2 separate regions of the Homo sapiens genome follow, and region 2 is linked to region 1. The links come from fine-mapping of genetic effects on gene expression. A gene starts in region 1. The other region holds a variant in brackets. All regions are shown on one strand. Distances are between the middles of the regions.

Evidence for each region.
Region 2: its variant is fine-mapped to the expression of NUCB1 in whole blood (TOPMed, PIP above 0.99).

Annotation. Positions count from the first base shown.
Region 1 is chr19:48,894,990-48,905,050 of GRCh38, reverse strand. It overlaps NUCB1 (nucleobindin 1), which reads right to left and starts at 4,739. Exons shown (of 13, transcript NM_006184.6): 1 at 4,679-4,739; 2 at 4,120-4,265; 3 at 597-704. The coding sequence starts at 4,254. TULP2 (TUB like protein 2) reads left to right here and starts at 6,307. Exons shown (of 13, transcript NM_003323.3): 1 at 6,307-6,461; 2 at 7,182-7,214; 3 at 7,655-7,706; 4 at 8,495-8,621; 5 at 9,548-9,685; 6 at 9,889-10,053. The coding sequence starts at 7,183. RefSeq lists a cis regulatory region at 5,563-6,562, enhancers at 6,097-6,912, 9,360-10,061 and a silencer at 8,794-8,933.
Region 2 is chr19:48,916,686-48,928,217 of GRCh38, reverse strand. It overlaps NUCB1 (nucleobindin 1), which reads right to left. Exons shown (of 13, transcript NM_006184.6): 8 at 9,434-9,492; 9 at 9,096-9,188; 10 at 8,932-9,024; 11 at 6,894-7,064; 12 at 6,286-6,391; 13 at 4,846-5,900. The coding sequence ends at 5,794. It overlaps NUCB1-AS1 (NUCB1 antisense RNA 1), which reads left to right and starts at 9,327. Exons shown (of 2, transcript NR_046633.1): 1 at 9,327-9,514. RefSeq lists a silencer at 1,012-1,306 and enhancers at 4,983-5,482, 8,629-9,128. The variant A/G (reference allele first, on the strand shown) is at 5,703.

The DNA of each region.
Region 1 (10,061 bases):
ACAGGTGGGGAAACTGAGGCACGGTGAGGGGAGGCCCCATAGCTGGTAAGCGGCGGAGCTGCGACTGAAAGCCTGCCCACGGGACTCTGCACTAAACACGTATTCTGTGTTCCCCAAAGCTCTTCCCAGCTTGTGACCCCAAGAAGCAACTTCTCCCTGAGTCTTACTTTGGTGATTTTCAAATACAGGCACAGCTGGAGCCATGTGGCCCCTTTGAAGAAACCAGTATGGTCAGGCATGGTGGCTCATGCCTGTAATCCCAACACTTTGGGAAGCCGAGATGGGAGGATCACGAGGTCAGGAGTTCGAGACCAGCCTGGCCAACATGGTGAAACCCCGTCTCTACTAAAAATACAAAAATTAGTCAGGCATGGTGGTGTACGCCTGTAATCCCAGCTACTTGGGAGGTTGAGGCAGGAGAACTGCTTGAACCTGCGGGGTGGAGGTGCAGTGAGCTGAGATCGCACCATCGCACTCCAGCCTGGGTGACAGAGCAAGACTCCGTCTCAAAAAAAAAAAAAAAGAAACCAGTCCTCCCCTGAACTCTGCCCTCCCAGCACGTACCCCTCCCACAGCCCCCACTCCCCCAGCCGCACCTTGATGTCCTCCGCATTGGCAGCCTGCAGCTTCTCTCGGAAATGCCCATCCGTCTCCAGTACATCGATGACCTCCTGGAGGTACCGGTGGTAGTACAGGCCTGTGTCCTGAGGCAACAAGGACAGACATAGCAGCCCCTGCTCCCATCCCCATCCCCACCCTCACTCCTGTTACTGCTATGGCCTGCTCCCTGGGGCAGCTGACAAGGGACTCAGTTTTTACCTTTTCCCACATATGCAGCAAAGATGAAATGAAAATCACATCAGTGAACACCCAGCCCAATACTGCCCAGAGTGGGTGCTCAGAGTGGACATGACTTGTTGGGAAGCTGTGAATCATACTTTTATCCATCCATCCAACCATCCATCCATCCATGCATCCACCCATTCATCCATGCATCCACCCACCCATCCATCCATACATCCCACCCACCCATCCATACATACATCCTACCCACCCATCTATCCACCCATCATCCATCCATCCATCCACCCATCCATCCACTCATCCATCCATCCACCCACCCACCCATCCATCCATCCATCCACCCATCCATCCATCCACCCACCCATCCATCCATCCATCCATCCATCCACTCATCCATCCATCCATCCACTCATCCACCTGCCCATCCATCCACCCACCTATCCATCCATCCATCCATCTATCCATCCATCCATCCACTCATCCACCCACCCATCCATCCACCCGCCCATCCATCCACTCATCCATCCATCCACCCACCCATCCATCCATCCACCCACCCATCCATCCATCCACTCATCCACCCACCCATCCATCCACCCGCCCATCCATCCAACCACCCGTCCATCCATCCATCCACTCATCCACCCACCCATCCATCCACCCGCCCATCCATCCACTCATCCATCCATCCACCCACCCATCGATCCATCCACCCACCCATCCATCCATCCACTCATCCACCCACCCATCCATCCACCCGCCCATCCATCCACCCGCCCATCCATCCAACCACCCATCCATCCATCCATCCACTCATCCACCCACCCATCCATCCACCCGCCCATCCATCCAACTGCCCATCCATCTACCCACCCGCCCATGCATGCATTCATTCATTCAACAAACATTCACCAGGCCCCTATCATATGCCAGGCACTGTGAACAACACAGACAAAAGTCCCAGGCCTCCTAGTCCCACCCCCGTCATGCGTAGCTGGGTGGGACTTTACTCTCCCTGGGCCTTCTATGCTCTTACTATTTATAAAATAGGCAATATATCCTCTGCCTCCCAGAGTTGTGGTGAAAAGCAAATAAGATAAGTTGGAAAAAATAAATAAATAAAATTACAAAAGAGAGAAGGCCAGGCATGGTAGCTCATGCCTGTAATCCCAGTGCTTTGGGAGGCTGAGGTAGGAGGATCACTTGAGCCCAGGAGTTCAAGGCTGCAGTGAGGTATGATCCTGCCACTGCGCTTCAGCCTGGGCACCAGCACAAGACCCTGTCTATTAAACATATATATATATATATACATTCTTTACCTCTTTACCTAGTCTCACAAGATCCCACATGATCCACATAATCCCCCTCTCCCCTCCCTCTCACTCTCCCTGCTCCAGCCACAGCAGCCTCCTTGACGTCCTCAACTTGCTCTGCTTTCTCCTACCAAGTGGCCTTTGCTCATGCTGTTCCCTCTGCCTGGAATGCTCTTCCCCTCACTTCCTCTCTTCCTTGCTCTTGACTTAACATATCTCTCCAGTTCAGAACTCAGTGGCTCACACCTATTATCCCAGCACTTTGGGAGGCCGAGGCGGGCAAATCACTTGAACTCAGGAGTTCGAGACTAGCCTGGGCAGTATAATGACACCCTGTCTCTATCAAAAATACAAAAAAAATTAGCTAGGCATGGTGGCACATGCCTGCAGTCCCAGCTACTCCAGAGGCTGAGGCAGGAGGATCGCTTGAGTCTGGGAGATGGAGATTGCAGTGATTGCACCACTGCACTCCAGCTTGGGTGACACAGCAAAAATAAAAAAAAAAAAAAAAAAGAAAAAGGAAAAGAAAAAATGAGGTGGCTCATGCCTGTAATCCCACCACTTTGGGAGGCCGAGGCAGGCAGATCAAGAGGTCAAGAGATCGAGACCATCCTGGCCAACATGGTGAAACTCCGTCTCTACTAAAAATACAAAAATTAGATGGGCGTGGTGGTGTGCGCCTGTAGTCCCAGCTACTCGGGAGGCTGAGGCAGGAGAATCACCTGAACCTGGGAGGCAGAGGTTGCAGTGAGCCAAGATTGCACCACTGCACTCCAGCCTGGTGACAGAGCGAGAAAGAAAGAAAGAACTCAACTCACGCCTCCCTTCCTCCCTGACTGTCACCCCTGGTGTTCACTCTCATAGAGCCCTGCCCTTTGTCTTCCATCTCCCAGTGAGCAGGGATAGTCCATGGGCATGGGGCATGCACATGGCTGGGCCCTAACAACTATGCAACACATAGGCAACACTATGCCCGGCTCATAGAAGGTGCTCAGGAAACATGTGGAATGGAAGAAAAGAAATGGGACTCAACAAAGCCTTCCTGGGTCTGCAAGGATTTCACAGAATAGAGGCCTAACTTGCAGCGTGGGGACCAGGAACATGCAATGATCCGTTCCAGGGGGTAATGACTAGCCCATTCTTTGTTTTTTGAGACAGTCTCAGAAAACAGAGTCTCAGCTCTGTTGCCCAGGCTGGAGTGCAATGGCGTGACCTTGGCTCACTGCAACCTCCACCTCTCTTGGTTCCAGCACGAGAATTCGTGCCTCAGCCTCCCAGAGTAGCTGGGATTATAGGCGTGAGCCACCACGCCCAGCTAATTTCTGCATTTTTGGTAGAGATGGGGTTTTGCCATGTTGGCCAGGCTGGTCTTGAACTCCTGACCTCAAGTGATCCGCCTGTCTCGGCCTCCCAAAGTGCTAGGATTACAGGCATGAGCCACTGCGCCTGGCCTGACCAGCCTATCCTTATGGGGAGCTATAGGAAGATTCGGACCACAAGACACTCACTGACCTTCAGGATCTCCAAAGTTCCAAATCCCTTAAGACCAAAGCTTTTATTGGGTTTGATAAACACATGTAGGAATTAATAAACAAGCAGTTCACCCGCCCTTCTGTAATTTAAACTACAACTCCCAAGAGCACCATGAAGTCAGAATACCCCAGCTAGCCAACATCAACTGCTACTGGGAACTAGCAACATGGTGCTACTGGGAAATGTAGTTTTGTTTGTTTGTTTTCAAATTCCTTCTTGGGTGGAGAGAATCTTAAAAAAACAGACGTTTAGTTGGGGCGTGATGCAGATTTTCCACACCTCAGAGTCAGGGACCTCCAGTTTTTCACCAAGTCAAACCCCTGCTGCTGGGAGGAATGGTGGGCAAAAAACAAGCTACAACTGTAGGGCCAGGAAGTCACTGGAGCATCCGCCCTACGGGCACCGGGGTCTGCAGGAGCTGTAGTACCACTGCAAACACCTGGCTGGATAGCAGGGCAGGGCCACTCACGGGACTCTCAGTCGCAGGGGTCTCCTCCTTGTTGGGCGCCCCTCGCTCCAGGGGGACAGCCAGCACGGCGCGAAGCAGGAGCAGCAGCAGCAGCGGCAACAGAAGGAGGGTTCCTCGGGGCCCAGAGGGAGGCATGGCAGTGTGGTCTGTGGGGGATGGAGGGCTGGATAATGCATAATGTCTGTCCCAAGCCTCTTCCTCCCCTGGAACCAGGAGTTCGGGCCCCCAGCGCCGCCCCCACTTCCAAGAATCAAGACACAAGCATTTTGTTACCCAGGCCCCAGGATTCCAGGCCTCCGGCCTTCCCTTCCTCCGACACAGGAGTCTGGGCCCTCAGACCCAGGGGTCCTGGCTCCCAACACGCTCCTCTCTCACACTCAGGAATCCGGGATCTCGGCCGCCTCCTCCCCCAGACCCAAGAGTCCAGGGTCCCAGCCTCCTCTTTTCCCAGGACCTAAAGTACTGGCACCCAGTGCATCCTCCTCCGGGACCCAGTTTTCCAGCCCTCTGGCCCCCATCCTCCCTAGGACCCAAGAGTATGGGAACCCTGGCCTCTCACCTCTCCTTCACCGCAGAGGGCGTTTTCCAGGGCGGGCAAGGACCTCCGGTGCGTTCTTGGTGACTTCCCCCCTAGACCACGCCCACTTATCCACAGAGGCCCCGCCCCAAAGAGGTCTGATTGGTCCACGCTGGCTCTGTAGCTTTCATCCACGTCCAGCGGCCCCGCCCCTTGCCGAAGCCGCTCGCATTTTCGTGAAAGCCTCGCTTCTTTCTCGGAATCCCAGCCTCTTGACGCCACATTTCCCGCCTATGCCAAAAGAGAGAGAAGGCTTTCAAAGATAACTACAACTCCCTGCCGGCCGGGGGAAAAATAACTTCCGCGGGCATCGTGGCCCCTTCGCCTCATGGGAGCTGTAGTTTTCCCATTTATTTTCGCCCCACGAAGTGCCTGGAAGTTATAGCGCGGTAGCAATTGCATAGCCTTTCTTATGAGTTTCTTTCTTCTTCTTCTTATTATTCGAGACAGGGTTTGCTCTGTCACCCAGGTTGGAGTGCAGTGGCGCAATCACTTCTCACTGCAGCCTCTACCTCCCAGGCCCAAGCAATCCTCCCGCGTCAGCCTCCCAAGTAGATGGGACCACAGGCCACACTACCATGCCTGGCTAATGTATATTTTTTAAATTTTTAATACAAATATTTAAATCTTTAATTCTTTTTTAGCCTTTTTTTTTTTTTAACGTTCTGTCTTTCACACTTCTCACACTTTGTTGTTGTTGTTTTTTAAAGAGACGGATGTCAAGCCGGGCTTGGGGGTTCACTCCTGTAATCCCAGCACTTTGGGAGGCTGAGGCAGGCAGATCACCTGAGGTCAAGGGTTTGAGACCAGCCTGGCCAACATGGAGAAACCTCGCCTCCACTAAAAATACAAATTAGCCAGGCGTGGTTGCGCATGCCTGTAATCCCAGCTACTCAGGAAGCTGAGGCAGGACAATCTCTTAAACCCGGGAGGCGGAGGTTGCAGTGAGCCGAGATCGCGCCACTGCACTCCAGCCTGGGCGACAGAGTGAGACTACGTCTCAAAAAAAAAAAAAAATCTCTGTGTTGCTGGTCTGGATCTGGATCTCCTGGACTCAAGCAATCTTGCCTCCCCGTCTCCGCCTCCCAAAGTGCTGGGATTACAGGCGTGAGCCACTGCGCCCCGCCTCTTTTAAGTTTCTTGTAAGCGAGATGTGTACAGTGAGGCCGCGAGGTCTCTGGTCTCCCGCTCTCTCTCTCTCTTTTTTTTTTTTTTTTTGAGACGGTGTCTACCTCTGTCACACAGGCTGGAGTGCAGTGGCGCGATCTCAGCTCACTGCGAGCTCCGCCTCCCGGGTTCACGCCATTCTCCTGCCTCAGCCTCCCGAGTAGCTGGGACTACAGGCGCCCGCCCGCCACAACGCCCGGCTAATTTTTTTGTGTATATATATATATTTTTTTTTAGTAGAGACGGGGATTCACCATGTTAGCCAGGATGGTCTAGATCTCCTGACCCCGTGATCCGCCCGCCTCGGCCTCCCAAAGTGCTGGGATTACAGGCGTGAGCCACCGCGCCGGGCCGGTCTCTGGTCTCTTTAAGGAACCCCCACACGGCATTCGTGTTCAGAACCCCCGGAGCAGGGTTGCCTGGCTGCATCAGTGACCGAGTTCGTTACTTTGTTGGAAGTGGAGAGTGGAGGGTCAGAAGGGAGTGGACCAGTTCAGGTCCCAGAGGGAATCCTCCCTCCCTCTGAGCCGTCTTTCTTCTCCTCCCTATTTCGCAGATATCCCGAGATTAGGTCCCCAGCTTCCAAAGAGAGGATCAGGTATGTTTAGAGATTGGCCAGAGAGGCAAGGTACCGAGGCATCAATGTGAGCAGCCTCTCCAGGCACCTGGTGAGGAGAACAAGTCTCCCGGATCCCAGGCAGGTGGGCAGTGGAGTTCTAGGCCGCTGGGGGCTGGGTGTTTGAAGTGCACAGTCCTGAGTTCTGATGCCTGGGTGCTGGAGAATTAGATATTTGGGGGAGAGAGAAGCGGACTTGCGGACCCCCGTGGGAAGCTGGAAACAGGCTACTAGATCCCGACAGGAGTGGGTGCTGGGATTCGGGCTGCCTGGGTCCGGAAGCAAATTTAAAGGTAAGGATCAGGCCGGGCACTGTGGCTCATGCCTGTAATCCTAGCACTTTGGAAGGCCAAGGCGGGCAGATCACCTGAGGTCAGGAGTCCGGCACCAGCCTGGCCAACATAGTGAAAACCGGTATCTACTAAAATACAAAAAAATTAGGCAGAATAGCGGACGCCTGTAGTCCCAGCTACTCGGGAGGCTGAGGCAGGAGAATCGCTTGAACCCAGGAGGTGGAGGTTGCAGTGGCCGAGATGGCGCCACTGCACTGCAGCCTGGGCGACAGAGCGAGGCTCAGCTGTCTCTAAATACATAAATAAATAAATAAATAAATAAATAAATAAGGCTAAAGATTAGGTGCTGGTGGGCAGGATCCATTGGGATGTTGGTTCTGATCCTGACTCCTCATTCTTGCTTCTGCAGAATGTCTCAGGATAATGACACATTGATGAGAGAGTGAGTAGGGAAACAGATGGGTAGGGGTGGAGGTGGAAAGGGCTGGGGACCCCGTGCACTCGGCTCTGGCTTCATAACCATGTTTGCAGGTTCAGCACCATCGGCCTTGCAGGAAGGGGCTGGGGACCTGGACTCCTGTGTCCTGAAGGGATGGGGCTAGGGTGCAGACTTCTGGGTCTGAAAGAGAAGGGGTTGGGGGCCCCAGACTCCTGAATCCTGAGACAGGAGGGACCTGGGATCTCTGGGTCCCGGCTTCTGTGGGCCAGTGCCAGGAGAAAGGGCCCTATAACTGGTGGAGCAGGCTCAGGTTCTGCACCTCCTGTGACCTCACAGGTGCCCAGAACCCAAGCTGAGATAGGGGCAGGATGGGGGAAGGAGGGACTCTCTTGGGCAACCGAGGTTCCCTGTGCACTGTCACCATGGGCCTGTGTCTCTCTCAGCATCCTGGGGCATGAGCTCGCTGCTATGAGGCTGCAGAAGCTGGAACAGCAGGTATTGTGCCCAGGAATCTCACCACTCCAACTCTTCCGCCTTCTGTGCCTCCCCAGGGGCCTCTCCACCAGGTCTTGCTCTAGGACTCCCAGCCCGTGTTGGCTGTCTCTCATCCTTGAGTTTTCCCACTGAGAAATGAGAAAATAGGAATTTGGGGCCGGGCAGGGCAGCTCACGGCTGTAATCACAGCACTTTGGGATGCTGAGGTGGGCGGATCACTTGAGGTCAGGAGTTCAAGACAAGCCTGGCCAACACGGCGAAACCCCGTCTCTACTAACACACAAAAAATTAGCCAGGTGTGGTGGCAGGCGCCTGTAATCCCAGCTACTCGGGAGGCTGAGGCAGGAGAATCGTTTGAATCCGGGAGGCGGAGGCTGCAGTGAGCGGAGATCGTGGTACTGCACTCCAGCCTGGGCGATAGAGCCAGACTCTGTCTCAAAAAGAAAAAAAAAAAGTAAGAAAGGAAAAAGAAAAGAAAATAGGAATTGGGGGTTCTAAAGAAGCAAACAAACCCTTGTGATGAATTTCTAAGGAACAAGGCTTCTAGAAGGCAGGACTCCTGGGTCCTGGGGGATGAGAGGACAGGGTGTCAGGACTCTTGGATCTGAGTCCAACGGTGGAATAAGGGAGGAGCTGCTGAAGAACTGAGGGCCTGGACGTGTGGGCCCCAGTGGAGGAAGGGGTTCACGAACTCTCGCGCCGATGCGAGCCCTTGCCCCAGGCCCCACCTCACTTCTGTCTTCCCATCTGGTTCCTGTCCCGGACACCCACCTCTCCCATCTCCCCAGCGGCGGCTGTTTGAAAAGAAGCAGCGACAGAAGCGCCAGGAGCTCCTCATGGTTCAGGCCAATCCTGACGCTTCCCCGTGGCTTTGGCGCTCTTGTCTGCGGGAGGAGCGCCTTTTAGGTGACAGAGGTGACCAAAGACCCCTGGGGGCGTTCGCCTGGAGGGGAGGGGCCTGTGGGAGTCTGTGGGCGGGGCCTAGTGGATGAAGGGGTGGAGCCTTAGGGTGGGGACTTGGCAGTGGATGGGGGCGGGCCTTGGCCCAGGAGAGCTTTAGAACAGGGCCTGTGGGCGCCCAGGGGAGAGGCTTGTGGGGGCCCCCCGCGGCAGGACCTGTGAGGGAGGGGTTCGGGGCAGGGCTACAGAGCGCAGGGGCGGGGCATGGTACAACTAGCAGGGGAAAGGGGCAAGAGAATGTGATGATTGGGCTTGGCAGAGCTCGGTGGTGGAGCCTGGGAAAGCCGGGACCCCCACCCCAAACCCGGGATTGCGGAGACGGGGTCTAGGGGTCCGGGGCGGGGCGCGGTCTCATTACGAGAGCCTGGCGCGAGATTCTTTACGTGCGGAGCCCGCAACAATCCAGCGGCAGGGCTGTGCTTGTTTGAGGCTTAGGATGCAGTTTGGGACCTGGGTCTCAAGGTTTGGGCGGTCCGCGAAACAGGGTGATTTTTTTTTCTTTTTTGAGACGGAGTTTAGCTCTTGTTGCCAAAGCTGGAGTACAATGGCAGGATATCGGCTCACCGCAACCTCCGTCTCCCGGGTTCAAGCGATTCTCCTGCCTCAGCCTCCCGAGTAGCTGTGATTACAGGCATGCGCCACCAAGCCCGGCTAATTTTGTGTTTTTAGTAGAGACGGTGTTTCTCCATGTTGGTCAGGCTGGTCTCGAACTCCCGACCTCAGGTGATCCGCCTGCCTCGGCCTCCCAAAGTGCTGGGATTACAGGCGTGAGCCACGGCGCCTGGCGGGGGTGATATTTGGGAGCCCAGTGACGGGGTGGATTTTGGTTGAGGACCGGAATTTGTAGATCGTTTTCATGGGCTCGCTGAACCTTCTCCCAGGCCTTGGGAACCCTTTCCTCCGGAAGAAAGTGTCAGAGGCACATCTGCCCTCTGGCATCCACAGTGCCCTGGGCACCGTGAGCTGTGGTGGAGACGGCAGGGGCGAGCGCGGCCTCCCGACACCGCGGACAGAAGCAGGTATTTGCGAGTCCACCGACCTCCTAGACCCCAGAACTCCGTCCCCACTAAAACCCAGGAGTCTGGTGCCTCAATCCATCTGTCCAAAATACTCAGGAGCTCAGGACCGCACCCACTCCTTCCTCACACCAAGGAGTTCAGGTCCTGAGCCGCCTCCTCCTGCAGCATCCAGAAATCCAACTCTCCCCTCCTTCCTTCCTCAGTGTTCAGGAATCTCGGTCTCCAGTCCCCTTTCTTATCCTGGCTCCCAGACAATTCCGATGCAGAATTGGAGGAAGTCTCCGTGGAGAATGGTTCCGTCTCTCCCCCACCTTTTAAACAGTCTCCGAGAATCCGACGCAAGGGTTGGCAAGCCCACCAACGACCTGGTAATTTA
Region 2 (11,532 bases), 22 kb before region 1:
GCGGCCTCCCAAATTGCTGGGTTATAAGCGTGAGCCATTGTTCACAGGCTGAGTGACGTAGTTTAATGTTATTTATTTATTTATTTTTTAAGACGGAGTTTTGCTTTTGTTGTCCAGGCTGGAGTGCAATGGCGTGATCTCGGCTCACCGCAACCTCCACCTCCTGGGTTCAAGCGATTCTCCTGCCTCAGCCTCCTGAGCAGCTGGGATTACAGGCATGCGCCACCAGGCCCGGGTAATTTTGTATTTTCAGTAGAGACGGGGTTTCTCAACGTAGGTCAGGCTGGTCTCAGACTCCTGACCTCGGGTGATTCGCCTGCCTCAGCATCCCAAAGTGCTGAGATTACAGGCGTGAGCCACCGCGCCCAGCCTCGTGACTTTATTTTAAAATGCTACTCTGCCATGTGATTTTTTTCCTTTTTTAAGAGACGGGGTTTGTAATCTCAGCTACTTGGGAGGCTGAGGCAGGAGAATTGCTTGAACCCGGGAGGTGGAGGTTGCAGTGAGCCGAGACTGTGCCATTGCACTCCAGCCTGGGGGACACAGCAAGACTCCGTATCAAAAAAAAAAAAAAAAGAAAAAGAAAGAAACAGGGTTGGCTGGGCGTGGTGGCTCATGCCTATAATCCCAGCACTTTGGGAGGCAGAGGAGGGCAGATCACCTGAGGACAGGAGTTTGAGACCGGCCTGGCCAACATGGCGAAACCCTGTCTCTACTAAAAATACAAAAATTAGCTGGGCGTGGTGGGCGCCTGTAATCCCAGTTACTCAGGAGGCTGAGGCAGGAGAATCACTTGAACCCGGGAGGCGGAGGTTGCAGTGAGCCGAGATCGAGCCACCGGCAACAAGAGTGAGACTCTGTCTCAAAAAAAAAAAAAAAGAGACGGGGTTTCACTATGTTGCTCAGGCTGGTTTCAAACTCTTGGGCTCGAACGGTCTTCCTGCCTCAGCCTCCCAAAATGCTGGCATTATAGGCATGAGCCACTGCACCCAGCCTGCCGTGTGACTTCTGACTAACCCGAAACTGGGAATGCCTCCAACATGTCTAACGGATGTGTTACTCTTTATGTAGAAACACGTACTTACCAGCCTTTCCTCCAGAACAAGCCTTGATGTTGTCACATCCATCACAAGATGTATCGCCCATAGCCACCTACGCGTTTCTTCCAGAGCACAGATATGCTTTCCTCGAGATAGAAGCCCTGTGTCTGGGGGTTGCAGGGTGTGATCTATCTGTCTTGCTGCTGCCCAAGACCACACTTCTTTTTTTTTTTTTTCCAGACAGGGTCTTGCTTTGTAGCCCAGGCTGGAGTGCAGTGGCGTGAGCTCGGCTCACTGCAGTCTCCACCTCCCGGGTTCAAGTGATTCTCCTGCCTCAACCTCTCCAGTAGCTGGGATTACAGGCGCCCACCACCACACCTGGCTAATTTTTGTATTTTTAGTGGAGACAAGTTTCACCATGTCAGTCAGGCTGGTCTCGAACTCCTGACCCCAAGTGAGCCACCTGCCTCGGCCTCCCAAAGTGCTGGGATTCCAGGCATAAGCCACCATGCCTGGCGAAGACCACACTCTAAGTTTCCCCCTAATAAACCACCCTGTATTGACAAACTAGATGGGTCGGCCTCATTCTTTGGTTTCTTGGCTCCTTCGGCATTTGGGGACCGCTTTGCCTATATGAACCTTTCAAAGAACACCATTTAGGCCCGTTTTCCAGATTGGGTCACTGAAGCTCAACTCCCCTCATTTTCTGAGAGAGGCAAAGAGAGGCTGCAGCTGATGTTTGCTATGCTCATTGTTCAGGTGCAGCTGGGAGGGCATGACACACATATAGCTTCCCAGGACATTCCAGGATCTGGGAATATGTATTTTTGTTTTGTTTTGTTCTGAGACAGAGTCCCGCTTGGTCACCCAGGCTGATGTGCAGCGTTGCAATCACCGCTTCCCAGGCCCAAGCGATCCTTTCACCTCAGCCTCCCAAGTAGCTGGGACTACAGGCATGTGCCACCACACCCAGCTAATTTTTTTTTTTTTCTTGAGATGGAGTCTTGCTCTGTCACCCAGGCTGGAGTACAGTAGTGTGATCTTGGCTCACTGCAACCTCTGCCTCCCAGGTTCAAGTGATTCTTGTGCCTCAGCCTCCCTGAGTAGCTGGGATTACAGGTGTACACCACCACGCCCGGCTAATTTTGGTATTTTTTTGTAGAGACGGGGTTTCACGTTGCCCAGGCTGGGCTTGAATTCCTGCCCTCAAGTGATCCGCCCACATCAGCCTCCCAAAGTGCTGGGATTATAGTTGTGAGTGACTGCGCCTGGCCCTATTTATTTATTTTTTTACATAGAGATGGGGTCTCCCTATATTGCCCAGGTTGGCCTCAAACTCCTGGGCTCAAAGGATCCTTCCTCCTTGGCCTCCTGAAGCGTTGGGATTATAGGCATCAGCCACTGTGCCCGGCCTATTTATTTTTCTCGAGAAAGGGTCTTGCCCTGTCTCCCAGGCTGGAGTGCAGTGGCGTGGTCATGGCTCACTGTAGCCTTAACCTTCTGTGGCCAAGCGATTCTTCTGTCCTTAAGCCTCCTGAGTAGCTGGGACCACAGGTGCATGCCACAACACCCGGCTAATTTTTTTTTTTTTTTTTTTTTTTTTTTTAGAGATGAGGTCTTGCTATGTTGCTCAGGCTGGTCTTGAGCTCTGAGCTTGAGTCATCCTCCTGTCATCCTCTCCTGAAACCCCCCACCCTGCCCATCCCTGGCCTCCAAAGTGCTGAGCTTATAGGCATGAACCACTGTGCCTGGCCAGAATTTCATTTAAACAAATACTCCTGGCCGGGCGTGGTGGCTCAGGCCTGTAATCCCAACACTGTGGGAGGCCGAGGCGGGGGGATCACCTGAGGTCAGGAGTTCTCAAGACCAGCCTGACCAACATGGTGAAAGCCCCATCTCTACTAAAAATACAGAAAAATTAGCCGGGTGTGTGCTGGGCACCTGTAATCCCAGCTACTCAGGAGACTGAGGCAGGAGAATCGCTTGAACCCAGGAGGCAGAGGTTGCAGTAAACCGAGATCGCGTCATCGTACTCCAGCCTGGGAGACAGAGCAAGACTCTGTCTCCAAAAACAAAACAAAACAAAAACAAATATTCCCCGCTTGCTTTTTACCAGACCCCAACTTGGTCCAAGGAAAGCATCCCCATCCCAGGTGAGGATGAAATCACCACTGGTGGATGCCAGCTTGGTGGATCTGTCTGCAGCTGTCACTGACCTGTGCCTCACAGCCAGTGGGATATAAGGGAACATGAGGAGAGGGCTGAAAGGAGAGGGAACTCTGGGGACAGATTTTCTCCCACTTAACAATGCCCAGAACAGAATGCGGCCTCTTCCTTCACTGGCTGTTGGTGACATCTGGAGCAGCTGCAGCTACCTTGGGACCATGAGGGGGGGTCCAGCCCCCAAACCTATCCTTGGCACAGCTAGGGGATGCGAGAACCTGGTTCCCTGAAGTCATCCTGCCTTGGGACATCTTGGTTTTTATCATAATTCATTTTTATTTATTCTTTTTTCTATTAGAGACAGGGCCTCATTCTGTCACCCAGCCTGGAGTGCAGTGGAGTGATAGATCATGGCTCACTGCAGCCTCAAACTCCAGGGCTCAAGGGATCCTCCCACACCAGCCTCCTAAGCAGCTGAGACTACAGGCACACACTACCATGCCCAGCTAATTTTTTTTCTTTTTCTGAGACGGGGTCTCGCTATGTTGCCCAGGCTGGTCTCAAACTCCTAAGCTCAAGTGATCCTCTTGCCTCAGCCTTCTTTTTTTCAGACAGAGTCTCGCTCTGTCACCCAGGCTGGAGTGCAGTGGCATGATCTCGGCTCACTGCAACCTCTGCCTCCTGGGTTCAAGCAATTCTCCTGCCTCAGCCTCCTGAGTAGCTGGGACTACAGGTGCCTGCCACCACGCCCAGCTAATTTTTTTAGTATTTTTAGTAGAGAAAGGGTTTCACCGTGTTAGCCGGGATGGTCTCCATCTCCTGACCTCGTGATCTATCCGCCTCTGCCTTCTAAAGTGCTGGGACTACAGGTGGAGCCACCATACCTGGTACATTCTTTTTTTTTTTTTTGAGATGGAATCTTGCTCTGGTACTCCGGTTGGAGTGCAGTGGTGCAATCTTGGCTCGCTGCAACCTCCGCCTCCCAGGATCAAGCAATTCTCTTGCCTCAGCCTCCCGAGTAGCTGGGATTACAAGTGCCCACCACCACACCCGGCTCATCTTTGTATTTTTAGTAGAGATGGGGTTTTGCCATGTTGACCAGGCTGGTCTTGAACTCCTGGCCTCAAGTGATCCCCCCTATCTTGGCCTTTCGAAGTGTTGGGATTACAGGCGTGAGCCACAGCACCTGGCCAAATTCATCTTTTAAAAGTTGCTTAATCCCGGCCAGGTGCAGTGGCTCACTCCTGTAATCCCAGCACTTTGGGAGGCTAAGGTGGGCAGATCATGATGTCAGGAGTTCAAGACCAGCCTGGCCAATATGGTGAAACCCCCATCACTACTAAAACAATGCAAAAATTAGAAGGCCGGGCGTGGTGGCAGGCAGCTGTAATCCCAGCTACTCGGGAGGCGGAGGCAGGAGAATCGCTTGATCCCAAAAGGCAGAGGTTGCAGTGAGCTGAGATTACACCACTGCCCTCCAGCCTGGGTGACAGAGTAAGACTCCATCTCAAAAAAAAAAAAAAAAAAAATTGCTTAATCCCAGGTTTGGGTTTTCTGTCCTTGTGGCTGAAGGGACCCTGAGTGAAGGCTGCAGACTCATCAGGGGCAGATGGAAAAATACCAGGATTGAGCCTCTCAGAAGTGATGCTTGAATCCAGTCTTCAAAGATGAGGACTCCGGCAGGTGACGTGGCAATAGCGTTTTGGAGGGACCAGTCCAGATACACAGGCATGGAGCCATGCATTTGTTCCAGAAAGTGTATTTGGATGGAACCGGAACATGGAACAGGACACACAGCAGGATGCGGAGCAGTGTCAGATGAGGCCAGAAAGGTGGGTGGGACTGGTCTTCAGGGGCTCCAGATGAGGCTGAGGGGCTGGGCCTAGGTCCTGGAGTGGGGTCAGCTCTGGGACCCTTCTGGGGCTGTGTGGGGAAGGGGCTGGGGGCCAAGAGGTCCAGGAGGAGGCTGGCGATGAGATGGCTGGAAGCCAGGGGTTCAGGGAGGCCCAGGCTCCTGGTATCAGGGTTCACCGGCTATACTGAGGATCCCCTGCCCCTGGCACCCAGCTGTGGAGGGGACACTGTCTTTGAGGCATCACTGGTTCCACAAAAGGTAGGGGAAGGTCTTGAGGGACCACCCCATGCCCTCATTAATCAACCAGAAGCTTGGCCCGGAGCAGCAGCGGGGATTCCAGTAGCTGTGGGCATACAGGATGCTAGGGCGGCCACAACCCAGGCAGCTGAGGCCGAGCCACCTAGGAACGCAGGCTCAGAGCAGACCCTCTTGGGACAGACGGAGAAGGGGAGGGGGCGGGCTTCTCTAAGTTAAGCCGATCACTGAGCACCTCACTGGACACGAGAGAAGGCAAGCCCCTCGGAGGACAGAAGGGAAGAGCCACAGACTTGGAGGCTGTGAAAGTGGAGACAGGTGGACCTGGGGTGGCAGCAATGCGTGAAATGCCAGGCCGTGCCCCCGCCCCAGGAGCCCAACATGACACC[A/G]GCCCCCAGGGAAGCTGACTGTGCCACTTCATCCAGCGCCCATCAGTCGCCTTGGAGCATCAGGAATCCTGAGGGCTGGGGTCCCGGAGGATCACAGATGCTGGGGCACCTCAACCTCAGGGAGCCGCTCGAGAAGTTTCTTTTCTGAAGTGTCCACCTCCTTCTGGTCACCGGCTGGAGCTGGGACAGGTACATCGTCTGGAAATGGAGGGAGGGAATGGTGGCACAGGACATCCGAACCCCTCCTCCCCCAGGACCCCAGAGGCCCAGCCCCTCCTCCCTCACACCCAGGGGTCCAGCCCCCAGCCCCTCCTCCCTCACACCCAGGGGTCCAGCCCCCAGCCCCTCCTCACTCACACCCAGGGGTCCCAGCCCCTCCTCCCTCACACCCAGGGGTCCCAGCCCCCAGCCCCTCCTCCCTCAGACCCAGGAGTCCGGACCCCCAGTCCCTCTTCCCTCAGATCTGGGAGTCTGGGCCCCCAGTCCCTCTTCCCTCAGATCTGGGAGTCCAGGCCCAGCCCCTCCAACCTCAGACCCAGGGGTCCAGCCCTGCAGCCCCTCCTCCCTGGACTAGGGCCAGCACCTGTGTCTGGGTGGAACTTGAGCTGCCCCTCAGGGTGGGCAGCCGGGGCCTTGTGGCCTTGCTGCTGCTGCTGCTGCTGCTTCCGCTGCTCCATGTGCAGCACAGCCTGTGGGAGGTGGGGGGTCACACAGACAAGAGGGTGTGATGCTGGCATTGCAAGTGCTCAGGCCTCAGTCCCCAAACGGAGACTTCACAGCAGCCTGCTAAGTGGTCACGGCCAACCCCTTCTCCGTGGGCCTCAGTTTCTCTCTTTCATTGACAGTCGGGCTTAATAATAGTCAAGGATCCAGTTCTCCCTCCAGTCACAGCTTGGGTCTTGCTTTGGGACAGGGAAACCCTCACCCATCCCTGGCTGAGTCTGCCTTTCTCCCCCTCCTGGGCCTTTCCCTCCTCACTTACAGCCTTAATGCCCTTATCTCACATGGCAGCCACAGAGCCGTCAGAGACGGGAAAACGTCTGCCCTTACTCAAGATGGCGGTGAATACTTGAGGCTCCCCCAGTGATTAACATGGTGGCCACAGGCCTTCCCAGCTTCTGGACACCCATGGGGACACGGACACGGGCAGCCAGAGATTCAGTGGATGGAAGCAGCTTCCCCCGCTGTCACCTGCTGCAGCTCTCTCTTCTGGGCCTCCAGGCGGCCCTGGGACCGCCCTAGAGCCTCTGTCTCCTGGCTGAGGCGCTGGGCCTTGGCATTCAGCTCTGCCTCCCGGGCAGCCAGCTCCTCTTCAAAGCGCCTCAGCTCTTCCTCGGTGTAGGCAGGGTGCATCTCCACTGTCTGCAGGGCAGGCACAGGGGCCATCAGGGGCACAGGTCCAACCTCGGCCCACCCATGTTGGAGAGGGTTGTGCCAATGGGGGAGGTGTAGAGGAGGCTGGGAGGCCAGGGCCATGTGGGTGGGCAAAGAAGCCCAAGTGGGAGGTGGGAGTGGGATAAAGACCGAGAGACAAGGCCGGGCACCATGGCTCCCACCTGTAATCCCAGGACTTTGGGAGGCGAAAGTGGGAAGGATCACTTGACGCCAGGAGTTCAAGGTCAGCCTGGGCAACGGAGCGAGACCCTGTCTCTACAGAAAATTGGCTGGGCATCTTGAAAAATATATAGAAATAGGCCAGGCACCATGGCTCACACCTGTAATCCCAGCACTTTCGGAGGCCGAGGTGGGTGGCTCACCTGAGGTCAGTAGTTTGAGATGAGCCTGACCAACATGGAGAAACCCCGTCTCTACTAAAAATACAAAATGAGCAGGGCATGGTGGTACATGCATATAATCCCAGCTACTCAGGAGGCTGAGGCAGGAGAATTGCTTGAACCTGGGAGGTGGAGGTTGCAATGAGCTGAGAATGCACCATTGCACTACAGCCTGGGCAACAAGAGCAAAACTCTGTATTGAAAAATAAACAAACAAATAAATAAATAAATAAAACAGAGACCTAGATTAGCTGGGCATGGTGGTATGTGCCTGTAGTCCCAGTTACTCAGGAGGCTAAGGAAGGAGGATCACCTGAGCCCAGGAATTCAAGGCTGCAGTGAACTATGATTACACCACTGCACTCCAGCCTGGGTGACAGGAGACCCTGTCTCAAAAAATATTAATAAATAAATAAAAGAATGAGCTAGATTAGCTAGGCATGCTGGCATGTGCCTGTAGTCCCAGCTAATAGGGAGGCTCAGGCAGGAGGATCACTTGAGGACAGGAGTTTGAGGCTGCAGTGGGCCATGATAACACCCCTGCACTCCAGCCTGGGTAATCCCAGCACTTTGGGAGGCTGAGAAGGGTGGATAGCTTGAGTCCAGGAGTTTCAGAGCAGCCTGGCCAACATGCAAAACCCTGTCTCTACCAAAAAATACAAAAATTAGCTAGGTGTGGTGCGGTGGTGCATGCCTGTAATCCCACCACTTAGGGAGGCCAGGTCAGGTGGATCGCTTGAGTCCAGCAGTTCTAGAGCAGCCTGGCCGATATGGCAAAACCCCATCTCTACAAAAAATACAAAAATTAGCCAGGCATGGTGGCTCACGCCTGTAATCCCAGCTACTCATGAGGCTGAGATGGGAGGATCGCTTGAATCCAAGAGGCGGAGGTTGCAGTGAGCCGAGATCCCACCACTGGGCTCCAGCCTACGCGACAGAGCAAGACCCTGTTTCAGAAAAAAAAAAAAAAAAAAAAAAATCACACCTCTAATCCCAGCACTTTGGGAGGCCAAGGTGGGTGGATAACCTGAGGTCAGGAGTTTGAGACCAGCCTGGCCAACATGGTGAAATCCTGCCTCTACTAAAAATACAAAAATCAGCTGGGTGTGGTGGCACGCACCTATAATCCCAGCTACTCAAGAGGATGAGCCAGGAGAATTGCTTGAACCTGGGAGGTGGAGGCTGCAGTGAGCCGAGATCGTGCCACTGCACTGCAGCCTGGGCGATGGAGTGAGACTCCGTCTCAGAATAAATAAATAAATAAATAAATAAATAAATAAATAAATAAGAGTCCTAGAGACAGGGGAAAACAGAGACCCAGAGATAGAGATGCAGTGACCCAGGAGAATGGACGGGGACCCAGAGAGAAAGAGAAGGGGCCTAAGATTCTGAAAGAAAGGTCATGGCTAGAAGAGAGAGAGGTTCAGGACCCCGAGTATCCCCCATGTTCTCACCTCCCAGCCCTCCCCGGTGTCCCCAAACTCCTTCCTCTGAGTGGATGCGAGGAACTCCTCCAGGGTCACGAGGCGGTCCTGGTTGGTGTCCACCTGGGGAGCCAGATAAGGGTGAGTGACAGAGCTGGGGGCCCGTCCTCTCCCCCGCCTGGCCCCCACCTCACATTCTTCATCACATGCTCCCGCATGCGCAGTCGCTCCTCCTCCATCTCCCGCATGTCGTCCTCCTCATTCTTTGGGTCGTACACTTTCTCCAGCTGCAGGAGCAAGCGAGAGGCAGACAGCATTGAGAGGTCCCCAGCGAGCTCATTCCCGACAACTTCAACTCCCAGCAGTCCTTTGGGCACGCTACCACTCCTGGGAGCCGTTTTTGCCCCAGGGGCTGATGGGAGTTGTAGTTTTCACTGAGCTCCCATCCAGGGGGATTTAAGGGGACTGCAGGAGGAAACAAGTGGCTGATTTGGGCGTCCCTCCAGGTGCCCGAGGCTTCCAAGATGCTCACCTCCTTGGTGAAGAGTGCCTCCAGCTCCTGCTCATCCAGGACACCATCACTGTTGATATCTGAAGGGAAGAGGATAGCAAGGTATCTCAGGGGACCGAGGACGGGATGTGTAAGGTCCCTGGTGAAGAAATTTTGGGCTGATGTGGGGTCTGTTATCAGAGGACAGGTAACTACGGGTCTCCCGCGGTGGAACGGTGGCCCCCAGGCTTTAGTACCCCACTAGACCCGTTGCTAGGGCCACTGCCTAGCGACCAGGGGGTTGAGAATGGAATAGATCAAAGGGAGGGTTCGAGGAAACATGCTTGGGTCACTGTCATGCAGGATTCTCTGGCCCTGGCATTCAGTGCTCTGGACACAGAGTCAGCTCCAGGGTTATCAGGGACCTCTGCCTCCCAGACAACCAGGCCAGTGCCGACTCCAGTTGTGAGGGGAGCCTCTCCTACCAACGTAGACCCCACAGCTGCAGGGCTTCAGGCTCGGTCAGCCACACTTCCTGTCCTCACCACCGGCCCTCCTTCCTCGGCTCCCTCAGACAAGCACAACCTTCCTCCTGAGGAGGAGGCCAGGAACCCTCATCTTGCAAATCCAGTGGTTAATTTCCACCTGCATCTGACTTGACTTTCTGCCCTTGGCTTCCAGAACATGATTCTGTCCTCTCTGGCTGCCCCTCCACCTCCTTTGACGGCTCCATCCTCTTCCTGACCTCCACATGCTAGTGTGGCCCAGGGCTCAGGCCTGGGGGTCTCTTCTCTGCCTAAACTCTGGATCTGCGCTGTCCAGTACAGTAGCCGCTAGCCACATGGGCTGTTTAAATGTAAATTGATTAAGATTAAAGAAAATGTAGGGGCCAAATTTAGGGGCTCATGCCTGTAATCCCAGTACTTTGGAAGGCTAAGGCAAGATCATTTGAGCACATTAAGTTCGAGACCAGCTTAGAAAAGATGGCTAGACCCCGTCTCTACAAAAAAAAAAAAAAAAGTAAAAAATTGGGCCGGGTGCGGTGGCTCACGCCTGTAATCCCAGCACTTTGGGAGGCCGAGGCAGGAGGATCACCTGAAGTCAGGAGTTCAAGACCAGCCTGGCCAGCATAGTAAAACCCCGTCTCTACAAAAATACAAAAATTAGCCAGGCATAATGCCAAGTGCCTGTAACCCCAGCTACTCAGGAGGCTGAGGCAGGAGAATAGCTTGAACCTGGGAGGCGGGGGTTGCAGTGTGCCAAGATCATGCCATTGCACTCCAGCCTGGGCAACAGAGCAAGACTCTGCCTCAAAAAGAAAAAAAAAATTTAAAAATTGGCTGGGCATGGTGGTGTGCACCTATGATCCCAGCTACTCTAAGGGTTGAGGTGGAAGAATCACTTGAGCCCAGGAGGTCTGGGTTGCAGTGAGCCATGATCACGCCACTGCACTCCAGCCTGGGTGACAAAGGGAAGCCCCATCTCTAAAAATAAAAAAAATGAAAAATAAAAAAAGGTATAGGGAGTTGCTCTGAACCTATTCTGGTCTGTAGGGACTGCCTGATTAAAAAGATTAAATAAGGTTTTTATTTTTTTATTTTTTAGAGACAGGGTCTCACTCTGTCACCCAGGCTGGAGTGCAATGGTGTGATCGTAGCTCACTGAAGCCTTGAACTCCTCGGCTCAAGTGATCCTCCCACCTCAGCCTCCCAAGTAGCTGGGACTACAGATGCACGCCACCACACCCAGCTAATTTTTGTATTTGTTTTCATAGAGATGGGGTTTTGCCATGTTGCCCAGGCTGGTCTTGAACTCCTGGTCTCAAGGGATCCAGCCGCCTTGGCTTCGCAAAGTGCTGGGATTATAGGGGTAAGCCACTGCGCCGGGCCTATTTATTTGTTTATTTATTTTTGAGACAGAGTCTCGCTCTGTTGCCAGGCTGGAGTGCAGTGGCATGATCTCAGCTCACTGCAACCTCCACCTCCAGGGTTTAAGTGATTCTCCTGCCTCAGCCTCCTGAGTAGCTGGGACTGCAGGTGCGTGCCACCATGCCCAGATAATTTTTGTATTTTTAGTAGAGACGGGGTTTCACTATGTTGGCCAGGATGGTCTCGATCTCTTGAGCTCCTGATCTGCCTGCC